Regions from separate parts of the Homo sapiens genome. Here regions 1, 2, 3, 4 and 5 are each linked to region 6. Evidence: fine-mapped expression QTL. A gene starts in region 6. Each other region holds a variant in brackets. All regions are shown on one strand. Distances are between the middles of the regions.

The links. PIP is the estimated chance that this variant, and not a neighbour inherited with it, causes the effect.
Region 1: its variant is fine-mapped to the expression of KDM4B in whole blood (TOPMed, PIP 0.96).
Region 2: its variant is fine-mapped to the expression of KDM4B in whole blood (TOPMed, PIP above 0.99).
Region 3: its variant is fine-mapped to the expression of KDM4B in whole blood (TOPMed, PIP above 0.99).
Region 4: its variant is fine-mapped to the expression of KDM4B in whole blood (INTERVAL, PIP above 0.99).
Region 5: its variant is fine-mapped to the expression of KDM4B in whole blood (TOPMed, PIP above 0.99).

What each region holds. Positions count from the first base shown.
Region 1 is chr19:5,032,835-5,037,902 of GRCh38, reverse strand. It overlaps KDM4B (lysine demethylase 4B), which reads right to left. Exons shown (of 23, transcript NM_015015.3): 3 at 4,872-5,037. The coding sequence starts at 5,012. Among named protein-coding and RNA genes, the nearest start is that of KDM4B, 66 kb to the right of the region's middle. RefSeq lists an enhancer at 652-1,226. The variant T/G (reference allele first, on the strand shown) is at 2,907.
Region 2 is chr19:5,003,566-5,008,633 of GRCh38, reverse strand. The region is part of intron 1 of KDM4B (lysine demethylase 4B); the gene reads right to left. Among named protein-coding and RNA genes, the nearest start is that of KDM4B, 37 kb to the right of the region's middle. RefSeq lists an enhancer at 3,812-4,312. The variant C/T (reference allele first, on the strand shown) is at 2,509.
Region 3 is chr19:5,125,402-5,130,469 of GRCh38, reverse strand. The region is part of intron 11 of KDM4B (lysine demethylase 4B); the gene reads right to left. Among named protein-coding and RNA genes, the nearest start is that of PTPRS-AS1, 50 kb to the left of the region's middle. RefSeq lists enhancers at 1-285, 286-822, 823-1,360, 1,361-1,896, 3,237-3,306 and 5 more and silencers at 1,305-1,354, 1,385-1,434, 1,678-1,842, 3,777-3,866. The variant C/T (reference allele first, on the strand shown) is at 2,686.
Region 4 is chr19:5,148,248-5,153,315 of GRCh38, reverse strand. It overlaps KDM4B (lysine demethylase 4B), which reads right to left. Exons shown (of 23, transcript NM_015015.3): 22 at 2,866-2,958; 23 at 1-1,981. The coding sequence ends at 1,805. Among named protein-coding and RNA genes, the nearest start is that of PTPRS-AS1, 27 kb to the left of the region's middle. RefSeq lists an enhancer at 1,281-2,052. The variant G/C (reference allele first, on the strand shown) is at 2,594.
Region 5 is chr19:5,164,197-5,169,264 of GRCh38, reverse strand. No RefSeq gene overlaps it. Among named protein-coding and RNA genes, the nearest start is that of PTPRS-AS1, 11 kb to the left of the region's middle. RefSeq lists a silencer at 3,486-3,705. The variant C/T (reference allele first, on the strand shown) is at 2,745.
Region 6 is chr19:4,966,434-4,971,501 of GRCh38, reverse strand. KDM4B (lysine demethylase 4B) reads right to left here and starts at 2,389. Exons shown (of 23, transcript NM_015015.3): 1 at 2,272-2,389. RefSeq lists an enhancer at 900-949 and silencers at 2,216-2,515, 2,826-2,925.

The DNA of each region.
Region 1 (5,068 bases), 66 kb before region 6:
CCTCCGTGGCCGGCATGCACAGGTTTCTTTAGCAAAAGCAGTAACAGCAGCAGCAGCCGCAGCGAGCAGGTGGCTCTCAACTGAGGGGGGGTCTTGTCCCCCAGGGGACACCTGGCCATGTCTGGGGATGTCTGTGGCTTTCACGACTGAGGGTGCTCCTGGCATGAGGTAGATGGAGGCCAGGGAAGCTGCTCAGCACCCTGCAATGCCCAGGATGGCGCCACCCCAGAGAACGATGCGGCCCCAAGTCCACAGTGCCAAGCGAAGAGAAACACTAATTTAGAGTTAAACCAAGATGAGGCCGGTCCCAAGGAAAGGACAGTCCAGCTTAGCGCCGGCTCTTTCTGGAGACTCTCCATGTCCACTATGGCCACAGTGCAAAAGGCGCCTGGGGCACCTGTCCCTGGCACAGGCTGTGTGATGGCAGGGTGCTGGGGCAGCTGCGGGGCTGCCGTTCTCTTAGATTTCAGGGGAGCAGCTGAAGAGTCAGTGAGACACGAAGACATTGAGGAGTGGAAAGGCGAGAAACAGAAACAAAAGGGCCTGTGTCCCAGACACGAGATGTTACTACAGAGAACTGAGTGGTATGGTCAGAGACCCACAGGCCAGCACTGCTCTGAATCACACAGACACTGTCCCCCCTCTCCAGGAAGCCCCAGTCTGCTTCTGCAGGAGGGTTCCATGAACCTGGCCCGGCTCCAAATCCACGCCAAAGCCGCTGGCCGAGGGGAAGCCGTGAATTCGCCTCTTCAGTGCTATTAGAGGAAACTCGCCCATGATCCTAGTCTGCTAAATGAACAAAAACACTTCGCTCCCGATTCCTCTGCTCTTGAAAGAACGCCTCGGGCTACATTGCTCATCTGTCCCTTCCACGGCGGGCACTGTGTAGTAAAGACATCTGGGAGCCACGCAGGAAGCTCCAAACACCCCCACGGTGTCTGCGCCGCACACACGGAGCCACACTCTAGGTGACACAGCCCAGGCAGGTGCTGACAGGCAGCGTGAACGAGGGCCACTTCCAGCTGGGCTCAAACCCGAAGGCTCTGGGAAAATCCCGCAGGGCGGAAGAGGACAGAAGTGACATCCCACAATCTGCCGAGACGCAAATCCAGAAGGAGGGCTCCAGGCGGGGAGGGTTGAAAAGGAGGCACTGAAAGCCGCTCGGGACATTCCTACTGCCACACTCGGGTCTTCCAGGCCTCCGGCGGCCCCTGAAAGTGCCTCACACGGGGCTCCTGGGGGGCCAGATTCAGCTGAGGCCAGGAAGGCGACCGGCCACATGCCAACAGTGAGAGGCAGATGCCGGCGGGTGGTATAGCTGAGGGCAGCCAGGGCCTCCCCTGCTGGCACCCGCCTGGGAGGCAGCTGGTGGGGGTGGAGGGGCACTGGAAGTTCCCACCCCTCCCAACAGGACCCCCGACGGGGCCTTCCAGGGCTCCTCTCACCTCAGTGCTTCCCAAGTGGTCGGGGACACCCCGTGTGGAGGGCCCAGCAACTCCAGTGGAAGGCTTCCTGCACCCAGGGCACCGCCAGCTCCAGGGCCCTCTCAGGGCTGTGCCCGCAGCTCCCGCCCCCACCGAGCTCCATCGGGCCTGCAGATCTCTGCTGGGGGCAGGGGCGATGTATAACCAAACACAGTTTTGATGGAACCAGGAAACCCCCAGCTCCCCCACCACACACATACATGCACGCACACACACAGTGGTCAAGGCAGGCAGACCAGGGTGAGAGGGGGACCCCAACACCCCCACAGCTCGCTCAGAACCAGCAGGGCACTGTGCTCCTTCTCCAAAGAGGCTGGCTGCCCCGAGCCAAGGGCCCCCCATTTGGAAGACGCAGGGCTGCCCAGGGCCAGAGCAGATGCTTCCCTGAGCCCATCTGTCCCCACAGAGCTGCAGAAGGGGGTGTGCGTGTGCCACATGCGGGTGCCAACGTGACTCTGCAGCTGCCAAGCTCTCTGGGCTGTGTGAGAGCTGCCTCCCCACCTCAGTCTCCTGTGCGCGCAGGCGCGCGCGCGCGCGCACACACACACACACACAGAGACACGTGCACACACAGCCCCTCCACAGCATGGGACCCGGACGGCCCCCTACTGCCCAGCCCCCTCCACGGGTTTGAGAAAGGATTCTCTGCACTGGTGCAAGGAGAAGCAGCATGGGAGCTGCCGCTGCAGAGGCATGGGAAGGAACACGCAGAACGCAAGGCAGGGAAACCATACTCCCCACACTGGCTTAAGACGCCGGTGCCAAGAATCTCGGGGGAACTGGCCTGGGGGGAGTGCAGAAACCTGAAGCAGCGACATGAGGGCTCAAAGAGGCGGCAGCCAAGGAGGCAGAGGGAGGGAGGGACGAAGCGGAGGTGCCAGCGCGGGGGAGGACAGGCCACCCGGGAACCCAGGCTGCACCCAAGGCCGCCACGTGGAGGGCAGAGAGAGCCGGAAACACCGGGGCATGGAGCCCGGTGGGAGGTGAGGGATGAGGAAGAAGTGACGGGGCGGGCATTTAAAGGCACCTCGGAAGAGCGCAGGGCGGTCTGAGATGCTGATTCCCCTCAACGTCCTGACATCAGGACGCCTTGGATCCCAAGCCAGAAAGGGCTGCTGCATCCTGGGAAATGTGGAAGTAGGTCAAGGGCAGGAGACAGAGGCAGATGCGGTGCCAGGATAAAGGGAGGCGACGCCTGTCCCACCTGCCCTATGTGCACCAGGGAGAGGAGGAAGAGGAGGACCTGGGCCTTTCCTGGGATAGCAGCCTGTGGCCTAGAGGGCCAGAGAAGACGGTCTGAGATGAGATAGGAGGACCAAAGCCTTTTAAAGACAGAACTGAAGCCGGGACGGCAGCAGCCCCCACCGTTCTGACCCGGACACAGATGTGCCATCATTCCCACATCGTCATGGTGTGTTACAA[T/G]CAAAAATCCAGCTTGGTGGTGCACACCTGTGGTCCCAGCTACTCGGGAAGCTGAGGCTGGAGGACTGCTTGAGCCCAGGAGGTCAAGGCTGCAGTGAGCCGTGATCGCAGCACTGCACCCCAGCACCCCAGCCTGGGCGACAGAGCCAGACCCCCTCTCAAAACAGAAAAAACATCCATCTTGGAGGGGAAGAAAAGATGGTGCGAGACTGCTTCCCTCGCTCTACAGCTCAGAGACAAAGAAATAACAATGCGAGTCTGATACCGAAGGATCACTAGGAGAGAGACGAAGGCTACTGACAAAATCCACCAAAACCAGGGAGTGGAGGGAGGGGCAGGGTGGAGGCGGCCCGGAAAGGCAGGAGGCCTCAGCGCTCAGCAAACTGCGGCCCTCGGGCCGAATCAGCCCCTTCCTGCTTCTGTATAGCCTTTGAGTTATGAAGGCTTTTGTTTGTTTGTTTTCATTTTTAAGTGGTTGGGGGAAAAGAAAAAAGCAGAAGACGTGAAAACAATACGCGTTTGCCCTCCAGCATCCAGGAATAATGTTGTATTGGCACAGGGCCGTGCACTTTCATTCACACGGCGTCTGGTTGCTCTTTCTGGCTCACAGAGCCTAGGCGTTCACCCTCTGGCCGTGTGTAGAGACTGCCCGCCAACCCCTGGCCTAACTGAGGAAGAACAGCGATAGTCAAACAGCAGGCAACTGGAAGAACCCAAAATGCAACGACGATTCATCTTCCAAACTGAGGGGTGAGCACTGCTCGAACAGGCCCACACCCGAACACAGAGACTCACGGACCACGGCAGCCACCTTCAGAGCCGTGAAACGTGCAGCACCAACTTTTAAGTTTGTTTTGTTTTGTGAGACAGAATCTTCCTCTGTCGTCCAGGCTGGAGTGCAGTGGTGCAATCTCAGCTCACTGCAGCCTCAACCTCCCTGGCTCAAGTGATCCTCCCGCCTCAGCCTCCCGAGTAGCTGGGACCACAGACATGTACCAACACCACGCCTGGCTCATTTTTGTATTTTTAGTAGAGATGGGATCTCACTGTGTTGGCCAGCTTGGTCTTGAACTCCTGGCCTCAAGCAATCCCCCTGCCTCAGCCTCCCAAAATGCTGGGATTACAGGCCTGGGCCACCATGCCCAGACGAGCAGAATGGTACTGTACATACTCAGCATGTGGGGTTCGGGGGTCTGCTGTGTGTATTCACGTACACGCGTGCACAATATGCCGAGAGAGAGAGAGAGAAGAACCAATAACAGTGCTGCTTCCAGGGAGAGGGTGGGGGACTGGGTCGGGACAGGGAGGAGGCTCCTGGTCACTATGTACCTGCGCTGTCGCCCTGTTTGAGTTTTCCTGACCCAGTCACTCTGCCATCTCAAAAAGATTGTTTCTGGTGTGGTCTGACTTGGTTTTTGAGACAGGGTCTTGCTCTGCTGCCGGGGCAGGAGCGCAGTAGCACGGTCATAGCTCATTGCAGCCTCTAATTCCTGGGCTCAAGCAATCCTCCTGCCTCACCCTCCCAAATAGCTGGGACCACAGGCATGCACCACCATACCCAGCTTAAAAAAAAAAAGTTTTACTAGGAAAGTAAGGCCTTCCTGGGCACTGAACACCCCTGGAAGGCGTCCCTCAGTGAGACGTCAGCTCACGGCCAGAACAACCTGGTGGCCCACTGCCCCTGGGCTTCACTGCAGTGTGGCTGTGTGTCCTCACCACCCCCTGCCAGCTCCCTGGAGCCAGGGCCTGCACCGGCCACTTCTCAACTCCAGTGCCTAGAATGGTGCCTGGCACATTGTTGGAACTCCACAAACAGGCGCTGGTAAACGAGCTGGGAGTGGCCCCGAAACACATTCCACGTGCACAGGCCACGCCTGTGGGGCTGGCTGAGCTGGGACCCAGGATGTCCGCAGGCCCGCGGCGCAGGCTGATGGAGGGCCGCGCTGGGGCCAGGATGTCACCCACCTTGGCCAGGCCCGCCCGGTGGGCTCCCTGCGACTCTATGTAGGCCACGTATTTGTTGAAGTCTTTAAATTCTTCCATGGTTGGGCGAAACGTCATGATTTTACAGCTGGGGTTCTGGGCGCCGTGGTCCTCAGACCCCATGGCTGCAGCTGTGCGGGAAGCACACCTGTGGAGGAAGACGAGAGAGGGTGAACCAG
Region 2 (5,068 bases), 37 kb before region 6:
GGGTGACAGAGTAAGACTCTGTCTCAAAAAAAAAAAAAAAAAGAAAAAGAAAAAGAAGAAACAAGGAGGCAGGGAACAGCCAGGGTTTTCTGGATCTCAACTAAGAAGGCTGTAGTCTCATCAGCTAATCTGGGTCTCTATATGTTAATGTAAGAACCATATTATTTTTCCTTAACATCTACACTCAAGACTAGACAAAAAATAATTCACGGTTATGAACCTACAGTAATCAAGACAGCATGGTACTGGCATAAGTACAGACATTAGATAAACGGGAGAAAGCTGAGAGTCCAGAAATAAACCCACACGCTTAAAGTCAGGTGATTTTCAATAACAGTGCCAAGACCACTCAATGCAAAAAGAACAGTTTTTTCAACAAATAGTGCTGGGACAGCTGGATATTCACACACAAAAAATGAAGGTGGACCCTTACCTCACACCATATATTTATACTAATTCCAAATAGGTCATAGATCTAAATGTAAGTGCCCAAACTACAAAACTCTTTTTAAAAACTTTTTGTACCAACAGTATCTTCCTATGTTGCCCACACTGGTCTCAAACTCCTGGCCTCAAACGATCCTCCCAACCCACCCTTCCAAAGCATTGGGCATATAGATGTGAGCTAGTATACCCAGCTCAGAACTACCCAACTCTTAGGAAAACCATAGGATTAAACCTTCGTGGCTTTGGATCAGGCAAGATTTCTGGCTAAAACACCAAAAGTGCATGTGGAAAAAGAAAAGTTGTTTGCAAAGACCTCAAGAAAGTGAAAAGACTTGGCTGGTCATGGCAGCTCATGTCTATAATCCCAGCACTTTGGCAGGCAGAGGTGGGAGGATCACTTGAACACAGGAGTTCAAGACCAGACTAGGCAACACAGCAAGATGCCATCTCCACAAAAAATAAAGAAGAAAAAAATTAGCCAGGCATTGTGGTGCACACCTGCAGTCCCAGCTACTCGGGAGGCTGAGGTGGGAGGATCGCTTGAGCCTGGGAGTTGGAGGCTGCAGTGAGCTATGTTTGTGCCACTGCACTCCAGCCTAGGAGATGGAACAATACTCTGTCTCAAAAAAAAAAAAAAAAAAAAAGAGAGAGAGAAAGTGAAAAGACAATGTACAAAACAGGAGAACATATATTTGCAAAACATTATCTGATAAGGAACTTGTATGCAGAATATGTCAACAACTCTTGCAACTCAACAAAAGACAAACAACCTAACAGAAAACACGGGCAAAGGATGGAGCAGACATTTCTCCAAAGAAGATACAAAAAGAGTCAACAGTCACAGGAAGAGATGCTTGACATCACAGCAATGAAGCAAGGGAGAAGAGGAGAGGCCAAAACCATGCCGAAAATGACAGAGGAGCCAGTGGGCTTCCAGGACCTTCTAGAAACCTCTCCAATATGGCAGAGCCTGGCCAAGAGCTGCCATTCATATTCCAGTCCTGAGATAACTTTGCTACGTTCCCCAACTCTCAAATGGGAGATGGAGGTTGGCAGGGGGTGCTCACGAGGGATGGTGGGGACAGGGCCCTCCCCCAAGGCCCTTCTAGAAGATTCCGCCTCCCCCGTTCCGCCCAGGTCCCTGCCCAGGTCTGCGCCTGGTCCTCACCACCCCCGCCCCGCCTCGTGAGCCCCATGCTTCTGCCAGGAGGTGGCTGGGGCCCGCTCTGGTGTCCCCTTGCTGGTGCTCCTCGTTGAGTCACTTCCCAGCAGCCCCATGGGAAAGGCACTGTTGTCACTCCCACTTCACAGAGCGGAACATGGAGGCCGTCCCAAGTCCCAGAGGTGCTAACCCAGGCTGTCAGCTCCAGGGCTGGTTACCCTCTTAACTCACCATATCTTTTTTTTTTTTTTTGAGATGGAGTTTCGCTCTGTTGCCCAGGCTGGAGTGCAACGGCATGATCTCAGGTCACTGCAGCCTCCGCTTCCCAGGTTCAAGCAATTCTCCCGCCTCAGCCTCCAAAGTAGCTGGGATGACAGGCATGCGCCACCATGCCCAGCTAATTTTTGTAATTTTAGTAGAAATGGTGTTTCACCATGTTTGCCAGGCTGGTCTTGAACTCCTGACCTCAGGGGATCCACCTGCCTCGGCCTCCCAGAGTGCTGGGATTACAGCCATGAGCCACTGCACCCGGCCTAACTCACCATATCTTAACCAACACATTTCCAGTTGCCAGGGAGATAAAACCCCAGCCAGGGCAGATGATGTGGCAACACGAGTCAGAAAGATGCGGCGGAGGGGCCTGGAGTGCCAGGAAGGACAGTGAGGAGGGGTGGGAGGAGCAGGAGAATGGCCGTGGGCTGCGGGGAAACAGCAGGAAGTGAAGCCCCCACAAGCCCAGGGGATGGGGGTTCCGCTCTGAGGATGGGGTGCACACTACCCAGAGGCAGGGTGGGGTTCCAGTAGTGGCGGGACAGACGGGGACAGGGAGAGGCTGCGGGGAGCCAGGCATGAAGAGGGCAGGCCTGCAGCAGGGATGGAAGGAAGGGAGGCGGGACCAG[C/T]ACCATCCTGGCTCCCTGCCGCCGCCACCAGCCCCCCATCCTTCTTCTCTGTCCTTCACTAAGAGAACATCAAAAACTGTCCCCTACCCATGAGCCCTCTCCCAGGACCCCCACAGCCCCCAGATCAGGTGATGGAGGCCCTGAAGTGCAGCACGAGACCACTGGGATGAGAAGCCACCTCTTGTGACCCAGCATCACCACTCACCTCCGCCAGAGGAGGACGCGGTGACTGCAGGGGCGACCCCTGCCCCTCATATCACTTAGACCCCCAGGGCCAGTGCCAAGCAGGGGGCTCTCTACCCCACATCCCTCCCAGCTGTGTGGCGAGGCAGCCGCTGGAGAATGGTGGGGACCTTCTCCCCCGTGGCCCTGTAGCCTCTAAGAGCGATCTTAGAGGGACGTCCTGGGTGAGGACATGGTACAGAGCACAGTCCCCCAAGGCCTGGTCCCAAGACCACTGAATGCAGAAAGAAAAGGTGTTTCAACAAACAGTGCTGGGACAACTGCTTGATATCCACATGCAAATAAAGGAAGGTGAACCCCCACCACCCACCATGAGGCCCGGAGGAGGGTGAGGCCCCCACCTCTGGGGCCTCAGTTTCCTCATCTGTAAAGGGGGCTCCCCATGTTAACACCCTCATCGTGGGGTCTTCAGGAAGCTCAATGAGGTCCCCTAAGTGGCAGCTGTCACCATCCTGTCACTCAGGAGGCTGACCAGCAAGTCCAATGACACGACAGGTCACAGAGGCCATGGAGGAACAGGTGCCCACACTGATCTATGCCCCAGTGGCCTGGCAGCACCACTGGGAAGGACGGTTTGGTAACATCTTTCAAAAGCACCTGCCCCTTCTTGCCAGCTGCCCCGGGCATCTGTGTTCTCCATACTTGTGCCACCTGGCCACCAACATCTCCACAGGCCACTCCTGTAGCCTCAGATGTCATGGGGTGACAGAAGTCCACCATCAACTCCACACACAGCCACAGAGTGGGCTGCACAGACGCATCTCCAAGCTTTGTGCTGGATCCCTGGGACAGCAGCTATCTGCCAGGTGACGGCCGCAGGACAGGCCGGCACACACAGAGCGCGCAGAAAAGGAAGACGCTACACAGGTACCTCTAGAAGGGTTACCACTTCCAGGGGTGGGAGAATGAAGCCTGGGGAAGTGGGAGACTGTGCAGGGGGTGACCAGCTCGTCTCACTTTGCCCGGGATGCTCCTGGTTCCGGCACCAAAGCCTTACGTCTGTCCCATATTTGCATGTCTCTGGGGTCAGGCTGGGGGCTGTAATCTGAGGGCTGCCTGGACAGTAGGGAGTGTATTCCGGAGGGGAGCAGGGGTGGCCTCTGCCCAACACCCAGGGGTACTGCCCACCTGTGACCATTAAAATATAACCGCCTTCCTGCCCCTCTGTGGGTGACTTCTCACGCTCACCGCACGGGGGTACGGGGACTCCCAGGGAGCACAGAGCCGTGGTGCATCTCACAGTCAAGCGTTCTCAACTACATGAAACTGGGGAGCTGAAACGTGCACGGCAGCACACATGCACACCGGGTCACAGGGACTGGCTGTGTCTAGACACTGCCGAGCGTCCCCAGACAACATGCCTGGCTGAGGGCATTGCTCTAGGAAGCTGCCGGGCTGGGGTGGGCCTGACGATCCGTCTCTGGATCGTGGGTAGAGGTGTATGAGCCCGGGGGGCAGCAAGGGCTGAGAAGGGCCAAGGAGCTGGCGGGATGCGCGGTGAGAACAGGCCCACTGTGGGCCATGCACTCCAGGCCGGGTGAGGAGGGAGCGAGGGCCTGTGGCAGGGCAAGAGCTGGGAGCCGAGCACACGAATGGTGGAAAGTGCCAGGGGCCGGCGTGTGGAAATGGCGAGGCCATTGCACTGGAGGGGTTCCCACGAGTCTCCTTCCCCCAGAAGAAAAGGACTTAGGAGAATCCTTAACCTCATCCTTAAGTCTCTGCCAGCACACCCGCCCTCCAGGACACACGCCATCCACCGCCCTAGCCGTCCCCAGTGCCAGCTTTACTGCCACGTATTAACTTCAAAGAAGCATTTGTGTACCAAAGTACACAGAGAAATGCACAAACTCTAAAAAATAACACGAAACAGGACGCGCAGAGGGGAGCCAGACGCACCCAGGCAGGAGACAGCATTCTCAAGCGGCTGAGCATCCGACCGCGGCCAACAACCCACGGGGCAGACCTGCTGTGGAGAGACGAGGAAGACCAAACACAGACTCAGGCATATACGGAGACTGTGTGGGGGACAGAGGGGGTTCCCCAAGGCAGTGGGGTAAGCAGGGACCTTTTTTTTAGACGGGGTCTCACTCTCGTCACCCAGGCTGGAGGGCAGTGGCACAATCTCAGCTCACTACAACCTCCACCTCCCGGGTTCAAGCGATTCTCCTAACTCAGCCTCCCAAGTAGCTGGGATTACAGGCGCCCACCACCATGCCCAGCTAATTTTTGTATTTTTAGTAGAGACGGGGTTTCACCATATTGGCCAGGCTGGTCTCAAATTCCTGACCTCTAGGGATCCACCCACCTCACCCTCCCA
Region 3 (5,068 bases), 160 kb before region 6:
CGTGGAACTCCCCGGGGCCAGCAATGGGGAGATTTCCTGACAGGTGACAGGGAGGGGACAGTTGACTCATGTGTTTGGTGGCATTTTACTTTGGGGCCAGGACGGGTTTGCAGTAAATAAAATAAAACTGGGATGAGCAGCCTGGCTGGCTGAATCACAGCCCCCAGAAGCGTGCGGGTCCCAACTCTCCTGGACATGTGGATGTGGGACATGACAGAGGGACATGGGGGACTCTGGCAGAGGGGACTCTGTGGGTGGGACTGAGTGAAATGGGAGGTGATCCTAGATGATCCAAGAGGCCCGATGTCCTCACAAGGCCCTCACAAGATGAGGCGGGAGGGTGAGAGTCAGAGAGAGACTGGAAGAGGCTGCGCTGTGCCTGTGAAGGGAGAGGAAGGGACTCGAGCTGAGGGATGCAGGGGCCTCTAGATGCTGGGAAAGGTTTCTGTCCTGGAGTGCCCAGGAGGGCCTGTCCCTGCACACAGCTCCATGTGAGCCCAGCGGCGCTCTGTGTCGGGCTGTGGGAAGCTCGTGCCGGGGCAATCCCTCTGAGGGCCGCCGCACTCAGGGTAAGTTGTGGCACGGCAACTTGGAGCCCTGTCCTCGAGGAAGACCAGCCTGGCCGCACAGCACACTGTGGACCCCAGAACACCGTGAGCCCTGGGGCCCTGGGGCCCTGCCTGCTCCATCTGGAGGAGGGGGACAGGGGCTCAGGCCCCCACCTGTGTGTCTCCAGGCCCTAAGGCTCTTGGGACATTCTGGAAGGAGGAACCGTGGTTGATATCCAAGGGATTCTTGGGCTGTGGGGCTTTCAGTGCTAAAACTGGAAGGTCCCAAGCAGATCAGGATGAACTGGTCACTGCTAACATTTCACCACCTCCACCTCCCCCAACAGGCTGGAAAAATAAGGAAAAATTAAGAGAAGGAAATTCATTTCTGCACACTAAACTGTTGACCATGTGGCACTTAACGGGGTCTGGTTTGGAGCACAGCGCCCACATCTCACCACTTGCTATAAAACCCACCACGGGCTGCCCCCAGCTCCACAGTCCGTGATGCCAGGACCAGTGGTAAGCGCTGAGACCCTCAGCAATGAGGCTCCCAAGGGCCGAGGGTGACACTTAACCCTTGACCCACACTGACCCCAGTAAGGGTCAAGTGAGGACCCTCCCCCAACAGACCCTGCAGCCAGGAGGAAGCCACACTGCCCCACACACTCCCACAAGGGGCCCCCAGCCCACAGCCTCCCCCAGGAGTGGAGGCGGCCCTGCCCTCCCTGCTCCAGCTCTCCTCCCCACACCCTACCCAGCTCCATCTGCAGGCTTGGGGGACCGCCCACGGTGTCCTTGGCAGGCACACGCCCACCTGTTTCTCAAGAAGGACAGGCGAGCAGCCATAAGGTGAAGGCAGCCCCCGCCACTGCCCTGGCCCCCACCCCTGCTAGTCCTGAGCATTCTGGGGCACTGGGGGCACTGGCCGGGCTCCTCCCTGACCTCCACCCCGGCAGGGGAGCCTGGAACACCCCCAGGTCCTGTCTGGCCTTGCAGGGAGCGCAGTCTTCCCCTCCGCTGGTATCCGGGCCCCCCGCTGTTATATGACCCCCCCCCCCGCCCCCCGCCTCCACTGTTATCTGGCCCCTCAGCTGTTATCTGGCCAGGGGAGGTAAACACTGGACACAGCAGACAGGCTGGCGTGGGAAGAAATACTTTTTCCCTGCCGATGCCAGAGGGGAGGCACCCCCTCCCTGGGAGGCTGGGAGCAGAGGCGTGGAGATGCAGAGGGGAGGGGCCGGAAGCTTCACCAGGGCTGGAAGCTGGAGCAGCCCGGGGAGGCTGCAGAGGCCGCACGCCTCACCCCGAGCGCCTGTCAGGAAAGCCACTGTCCTGCGTGTGTAAAAGGCACTTGAGGACAAACAGCTTTGTTCCCCTAAGGAAATCCAATATTCCTTCGTCCATGATAGCGCCTGCCCAGCCTCACTCAGGACTGCAGGCTGCGGTGCCCATCCAGCCTCACCGGGGACTGGGACTCAGGCCCCCCACTGCTGGGCCGGCTTCCCAAGCCGGGTTCAACTTCAAGGGCAGGGGCTGGCGTGGGATCTGGCCCAGGAGGGCCCCACCTGGGGCATCGATGGTCTCAGGAGAGGGAGGAAGATGCCAGGACACAGCCTCACGGCCTCCAGCTGCAGGGCCACTCAGTGCACACATGAGGAATTGGGGAAGGAGGCGAGGAGGAAACACTCATCAGAGTCCCCAGCCGGCACCCCCACCCACCCCTCACACACAACAGGCAGCTCCGCACACAGGGGACTCCAGCCGGGGCTGTGGGGGCCAGGGACACAGAGCCGGGCTGTCCTCACACACAACAGGTAGCTCCGCACACAGGAGACTCCAGCCGGGGCTGTGGGGCCAGGGACACAGAGCTGGGCTGTCCTCACACACAACAGGCAGCTCTGTGCACAGGGGACTCCAGCCAGGGCTGTGGGGCCAGAGACACAGAGCCGGGCTGTCCTCACGAGACCACAGGTGCCTGCTCAGAGGGTCCCTGGGGAGTCCCCGCCTCTCTAAGGGGCTGGCATCCTCCCCCGACCAACGGGGCCTCCTGGGAGCTGAGGGGCGGCTGGTGTGACCGCCCCAGGCCCTGGTTCTGCTCGGGAGGCAAGGCTGGGTGGGGAGCTGAGGCCACCAT[C/T]GTCCCCTAGGCCTCCCGGGGGCTGTCCTCTCACCAAGGGCCACACTGTAGGGCTCTCTCCCTCCTCCTCCAAGGACAGGGATGGCCCCAAGTCCCGCTTCCCCACAGCCCTCCCTGGTTGGCTGCCTGGTTCTGTCTCCCGGAGGGACCAGGCATGGGAGACAAAGTGGGACATAATTTGAGCCTCAGGTGCCCGGCTGATGAGTGCCACCCCATCCCCTGTCTGGAGACAGCAGTGAATGACAATGGCGGCAGCCTCAACGCACTCCACGCATAGCCCGCACCTGCTGGTGCCCTGGATTCTCAAACTCACAAGAACAAGTTTCCAGCCCTCTCCCTGTCGGCTCCCAGGCTCAGTGAAGCCCGGGCAGACACACAGGGGACCCTGTTAGAGGGAGATGCCCAAGGCTAGGAAGGACACCCTGAAAGACGGCGGCACACCCCGCAGCCATTCCTCGGGGCTCTGTCCTTGCTGTGGGCCATTCCTTGGGGCTCTGTCCCTGCCATGGGGACTACACTCCACAGGGACCTTGGCACGCCCCTCACCTGCCTGGCCTGAGGGAGGGAAGCGGGTGAGGGGCTTCAGGACAGAGCAGGGACCATGGTACAGATGGGGCCCAGGATGCACCCAGGCCCCCGAGGGCAGCCAGCTGAGGCCCTGCTAGCACTCTTTTTGGGTGGAGGGAAGGTGTCACAGCGGAAACCCCACCACCAGGGCTCACTAGCCTGCCTGGTGGCGAGGCCACTCCTCCCCAGCGCCGGGGTTTCCACCAGAGCCTCCAGCAAACCCCAAGACAGGCCCGAGGCCCAGGCTGCCCTGTGGAGGGGGCAAGAAACCACCCATTTCCAAGGACACCACTCTGTTCCTGCTCCGAGGCTGCCGAGATCAACTCACCAGCTTCGGCCTGGCTTATGGGGCCCCTCCCTCAAGTTTCGTGCTTGGCTTCCATGCCTGGGCCAACCAGCCCCGGTCTCAGGGGCTCTCTGGCCACCCCCTTCAACACTGCCACCCTCCCGTGCTGAACCCGCAGCCGGGTGCGCCTGACGGTCCCAGAGGCCCAGCTGGGATGTGCTGGCGGGTCCCCGGGCTGAGCTCACAGCCCCTCACTATGAGCTGGGGCCGCCCTCCAGACATGGCAGCCTTTGCTTTCCGTGTTCTAAAACCAGTCACCAGCCACGAGGCCTCTCCTGAGAGCAGCACTCCGGGGCGAGGGGAGGGGAAGGGCTGGGGGCTGGCTGCCCCACTCACCGCAGCCTTTCCACCCTCTGGGAGGCAGGACGGCACTATGCCAGCCCTCCTGGGTCCCCATCCTGGCTCTGCCCCCTGACCCTGTGTGTCCTGCACTGCAGGCCTTCTTCCAGGAGGCGGGGCCTCCCCGGAGGCTCAGGAGAGGTGGACGAGGCCGCCTTCCTGCTTTCTGCTTGGTTCTGGGGTTAGGGCTGGCTGGTGGGGCTGCTAGTCCCTCCTAGCGCTGGGCAATAGGGCGGCCGCTCTTCCCAGACCTTGAAGCAGCCAGTAAGAATGGGATAGGGGACACCAGCAGCCACTGGGAAGCAGCCTCTCAACCGCCCCCCAGGCACCTCTCCTCCTGAGGGGCTTCCTCCCCGATGCTGATGCCCCCTGGCCCCTGTGAGCAACAGGTTCTGGCCCCTTCCCAGCTTGTTCCATATGAAAACACAAAACCCCACACCCCACTGCTAGGCCCTGAAAGGTGCCTCAGCGTCATAGCTTTTAGGGGCGTGAAACTGGCATTCAAGGAGGACCAGAAACCGCTTTAGGAAATCTTTCCCGCAGCACTGTGGCATGCATTTCCTGTCGTGCCCCTGACTGTGAACATGCATTTATGAGGCTCTCTCGAGATAAACCTCTCGTCCAGAGGCTCCTGGGACTTCGGGCTCCCGGGAAAACGGCTGTGTCCAAGAAAACGCCCACCCCTGCCAGATTGGGTCCTTCCCAGGAGTCTCTGTCGTGGAACAGAGATAAGGGTGTCCAGGGCGGGGGGCGGGGGGTGGGCAGCACCAGTCCTGAGCCCTCCCTGGGCAGAGACCCTGACGTGCCACCAACGTAGCCCCTAACCCTCCTCGCTGGTCCCTGGCCTTTCTGTGGGGGCTGATCCCTTCAGAGACCCGTGGAAGCCACAGGCCTCAGAGATGCACCAGGCCCAGCCTCCTGGCACCGTGACCACTGCACCGGGCGTGTGGACCCCCGGGGATCTCGGGAGGGAGCGAGTTGCCCTGTACATCTTTAAACAGGATGGTGAGTGACCAGGCCAGGGCCTCACCTACGCCAGGCAGCTGGACGAGCCATTGGTTTCCCCTCCCTCCCACGCGGTGTAGGCTTCTCTCCAGCGGGCAACTGCCACTGTCAGGGGAGGAAAGCCGC
Region 4 (5,068 bases), 180 kb before region 6:
ATATAAATAGCATTTTCAAACAACATAAGAATACAGTGTCAGCGCCACGCCGGGCGAGGGCTGCGTGCAGAGGGACACCTCCACGTTTTGGCTGACACCCCCCAACCTCCCCGACCCCGGCCCTCTCCAGGGCAACCGCCCCCCTCCCCCACCAAGGAAATGAAAGGCTTGCTCCTGCGTAACACTCTCTCTGTTTTCCTTAGTCCTCTCTAGCCCGGGGACTGTTAGGACACTCTTTTATAATATAAACATTGCTTTTTTTTTTTTTTGGAGACAGGGTCTCGCTCTGTTGCCCAGGCTGGAGTGCAGTGGTGCAATCTGAGCTGACTGCAGCCTCAACCTCCTGGACTCAAGCAATCCTCCCACCACAGCCTCCCGAGTAGCTGGGACCACAGGTGCGCACCACCACACCTAGCTAATTTGTAAAAAATTTGTAGTGATGGGGTCTTGCTATATAGCCCAGGCTGGTCCCAAACTCCTGCCTCAGCCATTTTTTGTTTTTAATATAAGCAAATTATCTCCTCCATCCCTCCCTGGGGCAGGAGACAGCTAAGGTGGGGAAGGCTCCCCAGAGGGGTGCAGAGCTGGTGAGGGAGAGGCACCTGGAGAAGGCGCTTCCCAGCCTGGGCTGAAGGCCGTTTTTTCTCTATCAGCTCAACCCACTCCTAAGAAGCAGATTCCCCTCAGGTGACAGCAGCGTGGGTGGGTGGAGCGAGGACACCAGGCCTCGTCCCTGCCCGGAAGCAGGCGAAAGGGGCCCCGAAGGCCTGCCTCGGCCCTGTGTCCCCCGACCTGCTCAGGGTTGTACCCGAAGAGCTGGGAAGCTGTCCACACTCACTACCAACCAGAAGGGCCTGGGGGCCTCCCTCATCCTGAGCCATAGGAGGTGCAGGGGTGCTTTGTCTGCAAGGAAGCCTCTGGAACACCTGCGTTTCTCTCAGGTGAGAGAAACAAAGATAGACAAACCCCAGGAGAGAGTTTATTCTGCAAAGGTGGGCGCAGACGGAGGGAGGCCCCAGACCCCCGGGCTTCCCCTGGCCAGGTGCACAGGGGCGGCCACCAGAGAGCCTGGGCCTCCTCCCAGCAGGCACAGAGTGGGCACAGGCACTGGCACCAGACCATCAAAGCCCAGGAGCCGGGGTGAGGCGAGAGCGAGGCCGTGAGTGACCGGGCTGTGCCGAAACCGGGGCGTCCTGCCCCCCCCCCGAGGCTCACCCTCCAATTACCGGGTCTCTTTCCCTGCCTGGTCTGTAGCCAAATCATAATATTTTAAAACAACAACAAAAAAACAGCGAGATGCTCTGACCTCTCAGAGAATCCTGGTTCTGAGAAAAACAATGTGTTTGTTTTGTTTTGTTTTTCTTAAAGCCACAAATCTAGAAAACAACTTTGGGGATATTTTCCTTTGTTTTCCTTTTTTTCTTGCTTTTTTTTAAACAATATGTATTTATAGAAAGAGCCTCACAAAGGTGGTTTATGTACAGAAGTGACAATCTCAAAGGTTGCTCAGTAGGGCATTGCAGTAGCACCTTTTCGAGAAGAAGAGAGCTTACATGGTTTAAAATTCTGAGTAGTTGAGTGGGGTGCTCCCCTGGCCGGCCCCCGAGCCCGCCTGGCCCTGCTCCCTGAGTCTGGGGCCGCGTGCGGCGTCCCGCTGGCTCCTGTCGCCCTAGGGGGCACCCGCGGCTTGGAGGTGGCCTCTCGGGGGTCGGGGACACGAGGACAGGAATTCACAGCAAGCGAACGCCCGGGGCATGCCATGGCCTCCCCGCCGGGCTGAGGGTCGCCTGAGCGGCCAGCTGTCCTAGAAGGGGGCTCCGGGCCGGCCCTGCACCTGCAGGAGGCTCTCCACGAAGGCCACGTAGTCCTGGCTCCGCCCGGAGTCCTCCGTGGCAAGCGGGGTGCCCACACGCGGGCGCTTGGCGGCCTTGGCCTCCTCCCCCGAGAAGGCGGGCTCCTGCGGTGCCCCCGTGCTCAGTGACTGCGGGAGAGCGGAAGCACAGTGGTTAGCACGGTGGAGACACTCTGTGCGGCCCCAGCCACTGTCTATGGCCTCTGAGAGGAGCTGGCTGGACACAGAGCCCTGATTGCTGTGGGGGCTGCTCAGCAGGCTCCTGTTTTCGTGTTTGTAAACCCCTGATCCTGCCAGCAGAGGGGCCCTGCACTCGGCCCCAGCCTCTGGCCCCCTAGTGGGGTGGGCACCCTGGCTGGGGCTGGGACCGTCCATCTGGCAGCTCCCATCTGTTTTCCGAGGGACCCCTCTGCGGCTGAGCAGCTGTGGCCAGGACCAGGAACCTCCCCCACGGGCTCTGCCCCTCAACACCTCGCCTCTCGCCTCTCGATTAGAAAGAGAATAAAGGAAGCCCATGAGGGCTGGGGGAGCGAAAGCTGGAGCTGCCTCCGCTGCCTCCAGGACTCAGGCTCCCGTTTAATAAGGAAAAACCTCAGGAAAAGCTTTTTTAAGCCGACAACTGGGGTGCCCGTACTTCGCCTGTACCCCAAAACCTGTGATGGTTCAGAGGCCGCCCTGTGCAGGGTGGGGCAGCGCGGGTCCTGCAGGGCACAGGGGGCTGGGAGGGTCTGTTCTGCATTC[G/C]TGATAAGGGGAGGGGCGGGGCTTCTCCAACCCTCCCTCCCCACATTAACGGCATCGCCCAGGAGCTGCGGCACCAGGAGTCAAGGCAAAGGAAGGGTCTCCTGCCAGGAGCCCATGGACCAGCTGTGCTGGGGCGGCCGGGACCCCCTTCCAGCAGAGGTGCAAGAGGAGGGGGTGGTCCACGCCATTGGAAGACGCAGTCTGTGCCCTGCCTCGTCCCAGACGGGCTCCCTGAGTCACCCGGAGCCACCAGGCCAGCCTCGCGCACTCACCAGCCGAGAGCGGACCCTCTTGGGCAGCTCCTCCTCCAGGGTGAAGATGTCCCCACGCTTCACCGTCAGCTGGGACCCGTCCTCAAACTCCACCTGCAGGGGGATGTGGCTCTCAGGGGCCTGGCACTGCCAGGATGGCAGGTGCTCCAGGCAGGCCACGGCCTCAAGAGCTGGGAGGCCAGCCCCCTTGGGTGCATGGGGCCCGCTAGAGGCCACATGCAGCCAAGCTGAAGCTCATGTCCACCTCTGACACCGCCTGCAGCAAACAAGGATCAGGCTGAGGGTCCCGTACCACGGGGCAAGGATGACGGAGGACGGGACAGCCTGGGGCAGAGGCAGGGCCCCGCAGCTTCCACATGGAGACAGAACACTCACCCCTCACCTCCTCCCAGCTCAAAAGACATCTGTCTCCATGAAGACACAGCCCCAGGACAAGGTGACAGAGTCACTGGTGGACACAGAGCCAGGCAGGAGGCGCAGTGCCCTAACAGGGCCTGGGAGGCAGGGGAGGCCGGACAGGCGGACTCAGGGGCCTGAGCTCAGGAGCCCCCAACCAGAAGGTGAAGGACAGGGTCCCTGGCTTATGTGTGGCCCTCTGAAAACAGCTCAGTCACCTCTTCCCTTCAACTCAGAGAAAAATCACCCCCTTCCAGCCTCCCCAGCTGGTGCCTTGTTCCAGGTGGCAGATGCCTGACTGGTGAGGGGCACTGGGAGCACCCCGCTTCCTCCTCGTTAAGCTTGGTGCCAGCTCAGGCTCGCGGAGACTCTCTCAGGGGCCCTCTGGCAACACAACACTGTCCCATGAAGGGCGTGCCAGGGAGGGGCGTGTCTCCAGGCCCACCTCATAACTGCGATGGGCGCCGTGTTCCCAAGCCAGGAAAGGTGCTGGGGTCACTCCCTGGGCCTGACTGCCGTTCTGCTCCAGGGGGAGAAGGTTCCCATATCAGAGGGCTCGCTTTTCACATTTAAAAACTCAAAACAAGCCAGGCATGGTGGCATGTGCCTGTGGTCCCAGCTACCCAGGAGGCTGAGGTGGAGGCTGTAGTGAGCTCTAATTATGTCACTGCACTCCAGGCTGGGTGACAGATCAAGACCCCGTCTCAAAATGAACAAAATGCACACATAAGACTGTCACAGAAGCGTACAAAAGTCACACACTAAGACCATGACGGAAGTGTATAAAAGTCACACAGTAAGACCATCGCGGAAGTGTGTCTGGGGCTAGACGCCCCACGTAGTGTGCAGCGGGGGGGCCCGGGATCGCAGCACCTCCCTCTCCAAGGGAGCACAGACCCTGCCTTGGGGCAGCCAAGCCTGCCGGTCCCTGTGACTCCTCCAGGGATGGGTGGGGATGGAGACAGACGTAGGCCCTGGAGCAAGTGTCTGCTGTGGGTTCCACATGCCTCTTGGCCGGCGCAGGCGGCGGGAGAAGCAGGGCTGGGAGTGCCCAGTGTGGACTCTCAGATGGCCGGTTGCCTCTGGGCCGTGTCCTGGGACGACAGCACACATCTCTCGGGGATGTGTGGAGGAGCCTGCTGGGAACCAAGGACATGGGTGCCACCCTCTGCCCCGTCCTACCCATCTCATTTGTAGAGGAAAGCCACCGGGAGAAGGCCCCTTCCCAGCGTCTGTCCGGTGAGGAGAGTCTGGGTGAAGGAGTCCTAGTGTCGGAGCCCCAGCACCCCGGAAAGCGATTTCCACCCCCGGCGTGGCCAGGCTCCGCTTTGCCACGGGCAGCAGCGGGTTTTGGAGGCTCCGCTTTGCCAAGGGCAGCAGCGGGTTTTGGAGGCTCCGCTTTGCCACGGGCAGCAGCGGGTTTTAGAGCTCCCACTGCAGGAGTCCCAGGGCCCACCTGCTGCCTTTCCCCAGCTCCCCGGCCCCGACTCGGCCTCTCGGCTTCTGGCAGGCGTGGCACACAGTGATTCAGTCAGGCACAGAAGCAGCCTTGCCAGGAGGGGAAGGCGCGTTCTAGAAACTCAGTGGAAACTGGCTCAGGTTTCTGGGTCAGGAAGACTGCAGAGATCCGCCCCAGATTCTCAGGAGCACAGAACCGCCTAGGAGGATGGCGCTCACACTGCCGGGTCCAAGTGGGCTCCAGGGAAACTTCTGTGCCTGGGTCATTTGGGAACTGGGGGCTGACTGGAGACTCAGGCTGATTTCCTCCCAGTGGCCTCCCTGGAACGTGCTTTCACTATGAGTCTCC
Region 5 (5,068 bases), 200 kb before region 6:
GTGTTTTCTGTTTTTCTTTCTCTCTCTCTCTCTCTCTTTTTTTTTTTTTTTTTTGTTGTTGAGATGGAGTCTTGCTGTATTGCTCAGGCTAGAGTGTAGTGGCATGATCTCGGCTCACCTCCTGGGTTCATGTGATTCTCCTGCCTCAGCCTCCCGAGTAGCTTGGATTACAGGTGCCCACCACCACGCCCAGCTAATTTTTGTATTTTTAGTAGAGATGGGTTTTTGCGATGTTGGCCAGGCTGGTTTCGAACTCCTGACCTCAGGTGATCTGCCCACCTCAGCCTCCCACAGTGCTGGCATTACAGGCATGAGTCACCGAGCCCAGACCCCCATCGAATCATTCATGTAGGCTGGGTATGGCCAACTTTGGGAGGCCAAGGCGGGAGGATCGCTTGAGCCCAGGACTTTAAGACCAGCCTGGGCGACAAAGTGAGACCCCTATCTCTACAAAAAAAATAAAAAATTAGCTGGGCACAGCGGTATGTGCCTGTACCTTGTCTTGTGTTTTCTCTGTCCCAGTCATAAAATCAGTGATTCCTCCCCTGGTTCCTTTTATTGGAGAATGGTATTTAGATCGGGGTGCTAGTATGCTCACTGCTATTGGGGTATCAGATTAGCCATGTGTACACACATCTTTATTTATTTCTTCTTAACATTTTTCTTTTTGTAGGGATGGGGCTGTGCTATGTTGTCCAGGCTGGTCTTGAACTCCTAGCCTCAAGCGATTCTCCCCAAGCCACCCTGGTCTCCCAAATAGCTGGGATTACAAGTTTGAGCCCTTTCACCTGTATTCATAATATAAATATATATACTTACATATTTATTTCTGCATCTATATGTACTGACTATATATTTCTATAACATCTGTCTATATATATATATTAGAAAATCATGGATTGATACTGACACTTTTTTTTTTTTTTTTTGAGACGGAGTCTCGCTATGTCACCCAGGCTGGAGTGCAGTGGCGCAATCTCGGCTCACTGCAAGCTCTGCCTCCTGGGTTCATGCCATTTTCCTGCCTCAGCCTCCCGAGTAGCTGGGACTACAGGCGCCCACAACCACGCCCAGCTAATTTTTTTTTTGTTTTTAGTAGAGACAGGGTTTCACTGTGTTAGCCAGGATGGTCTCGATCTCCTGACGTCATGATCCACCCACCTTGGCCTCCCAAAGTGCTGGGATTACAGGCATGAGCCACTGCGCCCAGCCTATACTGACACTTCTGATTCCAACCAGCACAATGTTCATTCTAGCCGCTTCCTTTACCCTTGACGTAACTTTTTTCGCTGACAGAGAGAAACCTAGCTCATCTACAATTAATTCACTCATTTGCTCAATTGCAATATTCACATATAGTAGGTACAGATGGCTAAGCCATGAGAACTAGATTTTTGAACTAGAGTATAGTGTTGGTGTATAGGTATTTTCATTTTTAGCCTAACAGTATCCAGTGGAAACATTGTTTCCCAAATTTACTGAGATCAACTCCATTCTTCCCCTGGCTCTTCAGTGTGGTTGATTTTCATTTGTGGTGCAGCTGAGTTTATATTTTACTATTTGTTTTCCATTTGGAGTACACATCATATCCTTGATTTTAATCAGTTATCTTTTAAAGTGTGTATAACATGACTATGATTTTTCAGTCAGAGCTATACCAAATGGTTCTCAGAGAGTGGGCACTCCCTCTTCATTCCTGCTACTCTTTTTCCCATACCACTTCCAGCCTCTTTTTTTTTTTTCTTTTCCTTTTTTGCAACAGAGTCTCCCTCTGTTACCCAGGCTGGAGTGCAGTGGCGCGATCTCGGCTCACTGCAAGCTCCGCCTCCCGGGTTCACGCCATTCTCCTGCCTCAGCCTCCCGAGTAGCTGGGACTACAGGCGCCCGCCACCACGCCTGGCTAATTTTTTGTATTTTTAGTAGAGACGGGGTTTCACTGTGTTAGCCAGGATGGTCTCGATCTCTTGACCTCGTGATCCACCTGCCTTGGCCCCCAAAGTGCTGGGATTACAGGCATAAGCTTCCGCACCTAGCCTTTTTTTTTTTTTTTTTTTTTTTTAAGAGATGGGATCTGGCTCTGTCACACAGGCTGGAGTGCAGTAGCACAATCACGAGTCATTGCATCCCTGACCTCCTAGGCTCAAATGATCCCCCTACCTCAGCTTCCTGAGTAGCTGGGACTACAGGTGTGCACCACCACGTCTGGCTAATTAAAAACAATTTTTTTTTCAGAGATAGGGTCCTGCTATGTTGCCTAGACTGGTCTCGAAATCCTGGCCTCAAGCAATCCTCCCACCTTGGCCTCCTAAAGTGCTGAGATTACAGGCATGAGCCACCTTGCCTACTGCCCTAATTCTTTTAAATAATTTCCCACCTGCCCCTGTAGGTAACCAACATCCTTAGTTTCTTGTCTATCCTTCCCGTATTTCTTTTTCATTGAGGTGAGATTCACATAAAGTTAGCCATTTGAAAGTGAACAATTCAGTGACATTTGACACACTCAGTGCTGTGCAGTCACCAATTCTCTTTAATTCCCAAATACCCCCAAAGAAGACCCTATGCCCATTAAATAGCCACTCCTCATTCCCCTGGCCCCAGCTGCTGGCAACCTACAATCCCCTTCCTGTCTCTGTAGATTGACCTGTCCTGGACATTTCATAGATATGGGATCACACACTGTGTGGCCTTTTGTGTCTGGCTTCTTTCACTGAGCATGATGCCAAGGTTCATCCACACTACTGTAG[C/T]CTGTGTCAGACCCCCATTCCTTTTAATGGCTGAGTGATATTCCATTGTATGGATGGATCACATTGTGTTTACCCATCCATCAAACAACAGACACTTGGATTGTTTCCACCTTTTGGCCACTGTGAATCATGTTGCTATGACCATGGTGTGCAAACATCTGAGTCTCTGCTTCCAATTCTTTTGGTGTATCCTGGAAGTCAGATTCCTGGGTCATACAGTGACTCTGTGTTTAACTTTTTATTTGAAATGGAGTTTCACTCTTGTCGCCCAGGCTGGAGTGCAATGGTGCGGTCTCAGCTCACTGCAACCCTCCTGGGTTCAATTGATTCTCCTGCCTCAGCCTCCCGAGTAGCTGGGATAACAGGAGCTCACCACCACCCCCAGCTAATTTTTGTATTTTTAGTAGAGATGGAGTTTTACCATGTTGGCCAGGCTGGTCATGAACTCCTGACCTCAGGTGATCCACCCGCCTCGGACTCCTAAAGTGCTGGGATTATAGGCATGAGCCACCAAGCCTGGTCTGTGTTTAACTTTTTGAAGGACTCAGACTATTCCCAGGTACTTTCTTAACACCTGGTAATGTTGATGCTGGCATCTGTCTCCTCTAAAGGGCATGGGCTTTGTGGGGCAAGAACTTGCTGTATCCTCAGTGTCTGGCTCCCCAGTGTGTGTGTGGGCTTGGGAAAAACTAGCACAGTGCAAGGGCTCAGTAGCAGCTGGCAGAATTGATAAGACTGAGAGGTGAGGCCAACTGGACTTCCTGGGTCGAGCGGGGACTTGGAGAACTTTTCTGTCTTACAAGAGGTTTGTAAAATGCACCAATCAGTGCTCTGTAAAATGGACCAATCAGCACTCTGTAAAATGGACCAATCAGCAGGACATGGGCAGGGACAAATAAGGGAATAAAAGCTGGCCGCCCCAGCCAGCAGCAGCAACCCGCTCGGGTCCCCTTCCACGCTGTGGAAGCTTTGTTCTTTTGGTCTTCATAATAAATCTTGCTGCTGCTCACTCTTTGGGTCCGTGCCACCTTTAAGAGCTGTAACACTCACCACGAAGGTCCGCGGCTTCATTCTTGAAGTCAGCGAGACCACGAACCCACTGGAAGGAACCAACTCTGGACACATCTTGGGGGCTTGTCTGGGATATCGCCTTTTGGTGAGTACCATCGGACCCATTTTGCTTGCTATTCTGTCCTATTTTTCCTTAGAATTCAGGGGCTAAACACCGGGCACTTGTCGGCCAGTTAAAAGCAACTAGCGTGGCCACCAGACTAAAGACACTGGTGTCGGGCTTTCTGGGAAAGGGCTCTCTAACAATCCCCAACTCTTTGGAGTTGGGAGCGTTGGTTTGCCTGGAACCAGCTTCCACTTTTCCTGTACTTCCGGACTGAGCCAAGTGTCAACAGAGAGGAAAGCCATTTAGCTCCAGGGCCCTGACAAAAAGTTGGTTGACCCTGCAGCCATGAGCGGAACTCTCAAAGTCACGTCACCCAAGCGAGACTTGCCCATTTATCCTATCTATCCTGACCCTTGCCTCCTGGGTCCTAATGCCTGTCAGACATACTTCCTCCCACCTCTCCTCTCCGAGGCTAGTCCTGTTTCTAAAAACCACTCCCTGTCTCTGGTGCTTTTCTAGTTTCTCCTATAAGAACGACTTCTAGTATACATTTCAGGACTCTGTTCCTTTCTTTAGGCATCTGGGCTCACCAATCAGAAAGACAATCTTTGCCCAAAGCCCTGTCAGTGGGGAGACTATCTGGAATTTTAGGATCCCTCCTCAGACTAGCAGGCCTAACAAAGGCTATTCCCAAAGCTAGGATATGGGGAGCCTCAGAAATGATATCCTTCCTATTCACATGATGAGAAGTGAGGACAAAAGGCATCACTCTAGAGATCCCTTCCCTCCCTCAGGGTATGGCCCTTCACTCCATTTTGAGACATAACATCTTTATAGAACAAGGGTAAGGTCCCAATACTAACAGGAGAAAATGCTTAGGACTCTAACAGGTCTTCGAGAATGTGTTGGTAAGGGCCACTAAATCTGTTTTTTCTCAGTCTTCTTTGTGGTCTAAGAGGAAAGGCAAGGATGCATGTTTCCGAGAATGCATCAGTAAGGGCCACTAAATCTGACCTTCCTCAGTCCTCTTTGTGGTCTAGGAGGAAAACTAGTGTTTCTGCTGCTGCTTCGGTGAGCGCAACTATTACGATCAGCAGGGTCCAGGGACTGTTGCAGGTTCTTGGGTGGGGGAGGGGGGAAAACAAACCAAAACTGCGAGCAGTTTTTCTTTCACATGGGAAACACTCAGGCATCAACAGGCTCAACC
Region 6 (5,068 bases):
TTCCCCAGAGCTGAGGCTCCTCCCCGGCTCATCAGGGAGTGGGTGGGGCATAGGACAAACGGGCAGGAAACCAGCAGAGGAGACAGAGAAATTAGGAATTAAAGTACAGGCAGAGTGGTCAGGTGGGAGAGAAGGACACAGAGGACGGCCCCTGGCCACCCCAGAGGGCTCCTGCAGGACGGGACAGGGACTGAAGACAGGGCAGGAGGCTGAGGAAGGGTCTCTTCCACGAGACAGAAAAGTACAACAAAGGCCAGGCGGGGTGCTGTGCGGTGGCTGATCAGCTATACCTTTAAGCGCCAGCAGTTAACATCTTGTTAGCAGCCCCCTCCCCAAAGAGGAAAGGGTTAGAAAATGCGAGCAAACGGATTGTTACTAAGACATATATATTTCAGGTCTCAGCAACTAAACACACACGTGCACACGCAGGCACCCGCAGCTCCTGACACAGTAGACGCTTCCACCAAAACAGCCTGTACACAGACACCCGTCTGTGCGGCAGAATCTCCGTTACCCCCTTTTCCTCCCCAGCGGTGACCTCCTCTAGGCCAGGACAGTCTGACCCGTCCTGGTGTCGCCGGCTCAAGGAGGGGGAGCGCCCGGACCTGCCAGGTGTCCAATCAGACACACGGAGACGAGGCTGGCAAGTCCCAGAAATCCTCGGCTCAGACAGAAGTTGACTCTACCACGGCTTTACGCTCCGACCTTCAGGGTTTCAAAACATAAACTGCAAAGCGGAGAGAGGATGCCCACTGCTTCAGCAGGGGCTGCAGGAGAAGGCTGACCCCGTGTGTTGACAAACCCTCCTGGTGGCTCATAAGGAAGCTATTATTGGAGAATTAGGGGAGTCATTAGCTCCCATAACGGCAGTGATAAAAGCCCATAGGAGTCGTCTAATGAGCCTGCTTTAGGACTGGTGCTGTTTTTAGGAGCATTCTCCAGCCCGGGGACATTCTGATAAATGGCCATTGAGGCAGAGGACTGGGGCAGGGCACCGATCCCTTGAATTCAGTCCAGTATCCAGAGATCCCAAGACAGTGCAGGCACCCGGTGGGACCCAAAGGAACTTGCTGAATACACGCCCCAGCCAGAAACACATGGAAAAAGACGCTCTTCACATATGACAGGATCACTAGGCTCCACGGAGCTGAACCACCTTCTCACTAGTTTCACAACTCGGGGAACACTTCCTCACAGGGTGCTGGTAAATTATTAAAACAGAAGCATCCTCCCCCAAGCAAACAGATGGGATGCACCCAAAAGCAGTCCATGCCTCCACTGCCCCCAGGGGCGGAAAACATGCCCCTTAAAACCTTCCACCGTGCCCAGGTGGACAGAGTCCCCCGTCCTGCCTGATTGTCATGGCCACCACTGAGCGCAGACCTGGGCCCTGGCAGACCCCAGGTCAAGCAGATTTCAGAGCGAGTCCGTCCCCAGCTCCCAGGGGGATGTCCACGGGGGACACAGAAAAGGGGTCTCGGCGGAAGCAACTCCTCAATTCATTTCTCTAGAGCAGGGGCTTCGTTCGAGATGGCGATCAGGCTGGAAGGGGGAGGGACGGAGAGACTCGTGGAGGCTGCCGTTGCATAGCAAGATGATTTTTTTCTAAAATCCAGATTGCATATGCTTATGGCGGGGTGGGGGTTTCGGGTACGTACAGGGGGGCAAGTTTGGAAGCTACCAAGGCATAGCAGGTTGACCGGAGGTGGGGGCAGTGCAGGAGCAATGATAGGCATTTAGGGGGCATCCCTGGGTGTCCAGCTGGGGGGCTTCCCCTTAGCCCCCCTGGCGCCCAAAGGGCCAGAAACGCAGGCGGGGGTTACCCAGGGGCTGGGGTCTTTTTCCTTTTTCTTGCTTTCTTTCAAAAATAATAATAATAATAGGCCGAGGCTTGTCCCGGGTGATAAAAGGGCCCGGCCGGGGCCACCCACGCTGTCATCTTTTGTGCGGGGCGCCGGGGCCGTCTGTGCCCAGCCCCCGCGCGCCCCCGGCCCGGGAAGGGGCCCCCGCTCCCGCCCCTGGGCGCGCCCCGCCATTGTCCGGCCCCGCCGCCCCCGCCCGAAAACCAGCGGGCGCCCCCGGGCCGGGCGGTTAACGCCCCAACCGCCCCGCCGGCCCGGACAAAGCGCGAGGCCCGGCCCGAGCAGGCCGCGCCCGAGGCCTGGGCCTCGAGTCCCGGGCGCGCCCGCAGCCCCGAGCCGCGACGCGGGGGCGGCCATGGCGGCGGGGTCCGCGCTCGGACACGGCCGGGCGGCCTCCCCGTGGGCTCACCTGAGGCGGCGTGCGCGGCCCGGTCCGGGAGCAGCGGCGCGCTCTCCCCCGCCCTCGGCGTCGCACCCCCAGGCCCCGCTCGGGCCGGGCCCCGCTCGGTTGCTGGCGACCGAGCCCTCCGCAAGCGCTCGCGGGGGGGCTTATAAGGCCGCGCGCCAGCTCCGCCCCGACTGCCATTGGCTGCCGGATCCACGCCCGAGCGCCCATTGGCCGGAGCTGACAGCTCCGCCCCTCCCCTCCGCCGGGCCCATCAACACCGCACGGCCCGCCCACCGCGCGCCGCGATTGGGCGGGGACAAACGCCGGCCTCGCCTCTTCATTGGCAGACCGGCGGGGACACGCCGGCGCCCACCCACGTGCCCGCTGACCGGCTCTGTTCTCATTGGAGGGGGCGCACGCCAGCCAAGGCTGCCGCGACCAACCCGACGGCAGCTGGGCCTTGGATTGACAAGGGAGCCTCAGGGCCCGCCCGACGACCGCACAGAGAGGAGCCAGTATTGGCTTGAGGGGCCAGCCCGAGGCGCGGACAGGCTGGGGCAGGTGCCAATCACTGCCCGCAAGCTCCGGGCCCCGCCCTGGTTATCAGGCGGCGGCTGAGTACGTGAGACCCAGCACAGCATCAGCACCGGCCGGGAACGTGCAGGCTGGAGGTTCGAAACCCGTGGCCGGAATGTGGGCTTAGCGTTCCCCAATTTGCAAAGTGCCAAGCAAGGAGACATAGCGATCCGTTTTGCAAAGGAGGAGAACCGAGAACATAGGGTAAAGCAGCAAGAGCCTCCACCCCGCCACCGTAGGTCTATTCCCATCACAATCAACAAACCTTTGCCAAGGGGCAAGGCCTTCGGAATAGTTAGGGTCCCTCTCCCCGAGTTCCCTAAAATGTATGGGAGAGAATGAGCTTTGGTGCTTTCTGACCTGGATTCAAAGCTAAGCCGGGCCCCATGCCTCACTGTGGTTGACCTCCAGCAAAGTAACCTCGCTGAGTCTGTTTCCAACTGTGCAATGGATATGATGGTAGTGGCCACACCCCGTCTACCCGCCTCTTGAGAATGTTGCAAGGATTAAGTGGGATGAGGCACGGAGAAAGATTTGACCCTGTGACTTCACAAAATGAGCATTCATTGTGTACTGGACCACGCAGGGGTGTGAGGCATGCCCCCATTTGGAGTGGCAGGAGTGTAAATTGGGCAATTTGACATTTTCTAATAACATTCTAAGTGCATCCACCACCCGATAACCCAGCCAGCAGTTCTTCCTGGAGGTGATGTACCCAGAAAAAAGGTCTGGAGCTTACACAATTCAAGAATGCCGGCGGCAGGGCTGTCTGCAACTGTTTCCAATGTTTTGCACTAACTATCCATCAGTGGGGGATTAGAGAAGTAACTTAATAGCAATCAGTACTCTGGAATACTTACTATGTAGCAATTGAAAAGGAGGCCAGGCCCGGTGCTGTGGCTCGGGCGACTCACACCTGTAATCCCAGCACTTTGGGAGGTCGAGTCGGGTGGAACACCTGAGGTCCAGAGTTCGAGACCAGCCTGGCCAACATGGCAAAAACCTGTCTCTATTAACAAATACAAAATTAGCCAGGCATGGTGGCGCATGCCTGTAATCCCAGCTACTCCAGAGGCTGAGGCGGAGGTTGCAGTGAGTCGAGATCACTGCACTTCAGCCTGGGCAACAGGGTGAGACTCTGTCTCAAAAAAGGAAAGAAAAGAAAAAAGAGAAGGCCGATCTGTTTGCAAACATGAAATATCTCCCAACCGCTGAGCTAGGGACAGTGGTCCAGAATCCTGTACTCAATAAAATAAATATGGAAACACACACAGAAACCGGTATCATGAGGTTAAGAGCACACAAGCTTGTCAATGCACAGAAAAAGGTACTCCTAAACTGAAGAAACGAACTTAATCCTTGGGGAGAGAAGGAAAGCTGCACACTGGTAAAAAGAGAAGTCAAAGGAGAATTTAAGAAGCTCTGGGTGTTTTAAATTCTTATGGGACCATATTCATATATTCCACATGGAGTTGAGATTTAATTTCAGGTCATGCCTGGAATCGCAGCACTTTGGGAGGCTGAGATGGGCAGATCACTTGAGCCCACGAGTTTGAGAACAGGCTGGGCAATATAGCAAGACTCCGTCTCTACCAAAAAAATTACAAAAGTTGGGCGTGGTGACACGCGCCTATAATCCCAGCTATTCGGGGGCTGAGGCGAAAGGATCACCTGAGCCCGGGGAAGTGGAGGCTGCAGTGAGCCGTTGATTACACCACTGCACTCCAGCCTGGGTGACAGAGTCAAACCCCGTCTCAAAATAAAAAGTAAAAACAAAATTTAAAAACAGGCTGTTGCCCAGGCTGGGTGTAGTGACTCACATCTGTAATCCCAGCCCTTTGGGAGGCCAAGGTGGGAGGATCACTTGATCCCAGGAGTTTCAGGCCAGCCTGGGCAACAGAGCGAGACCTCTTCTCTACTAAAAATAAAAACCGAGTTGATTGTGCGGGCACATGCCTGTGGTCCCAGCTACACTGGGGGCTGAGGGAGGATCACTTGAGCCCAGGAGGTCGAGGCTGCAGTGAGCCATGATCACACCACTGCACTCCTGGGCAACAGAATGAGACCCTGTCTCAAAAAAAAAAAAAAGTGCAATCATGAAGGGAAAGAGTCCCCACCCCACGTACCACATACATAGGGCTTTTTGTTCTACTTCCAAGTATATTCTCTGAGACAGTGGGGGGTGTTTAGATTTCACAGACAATATAAATGTTTTTAACCGAGGAACCCAAATGGGTTCTCC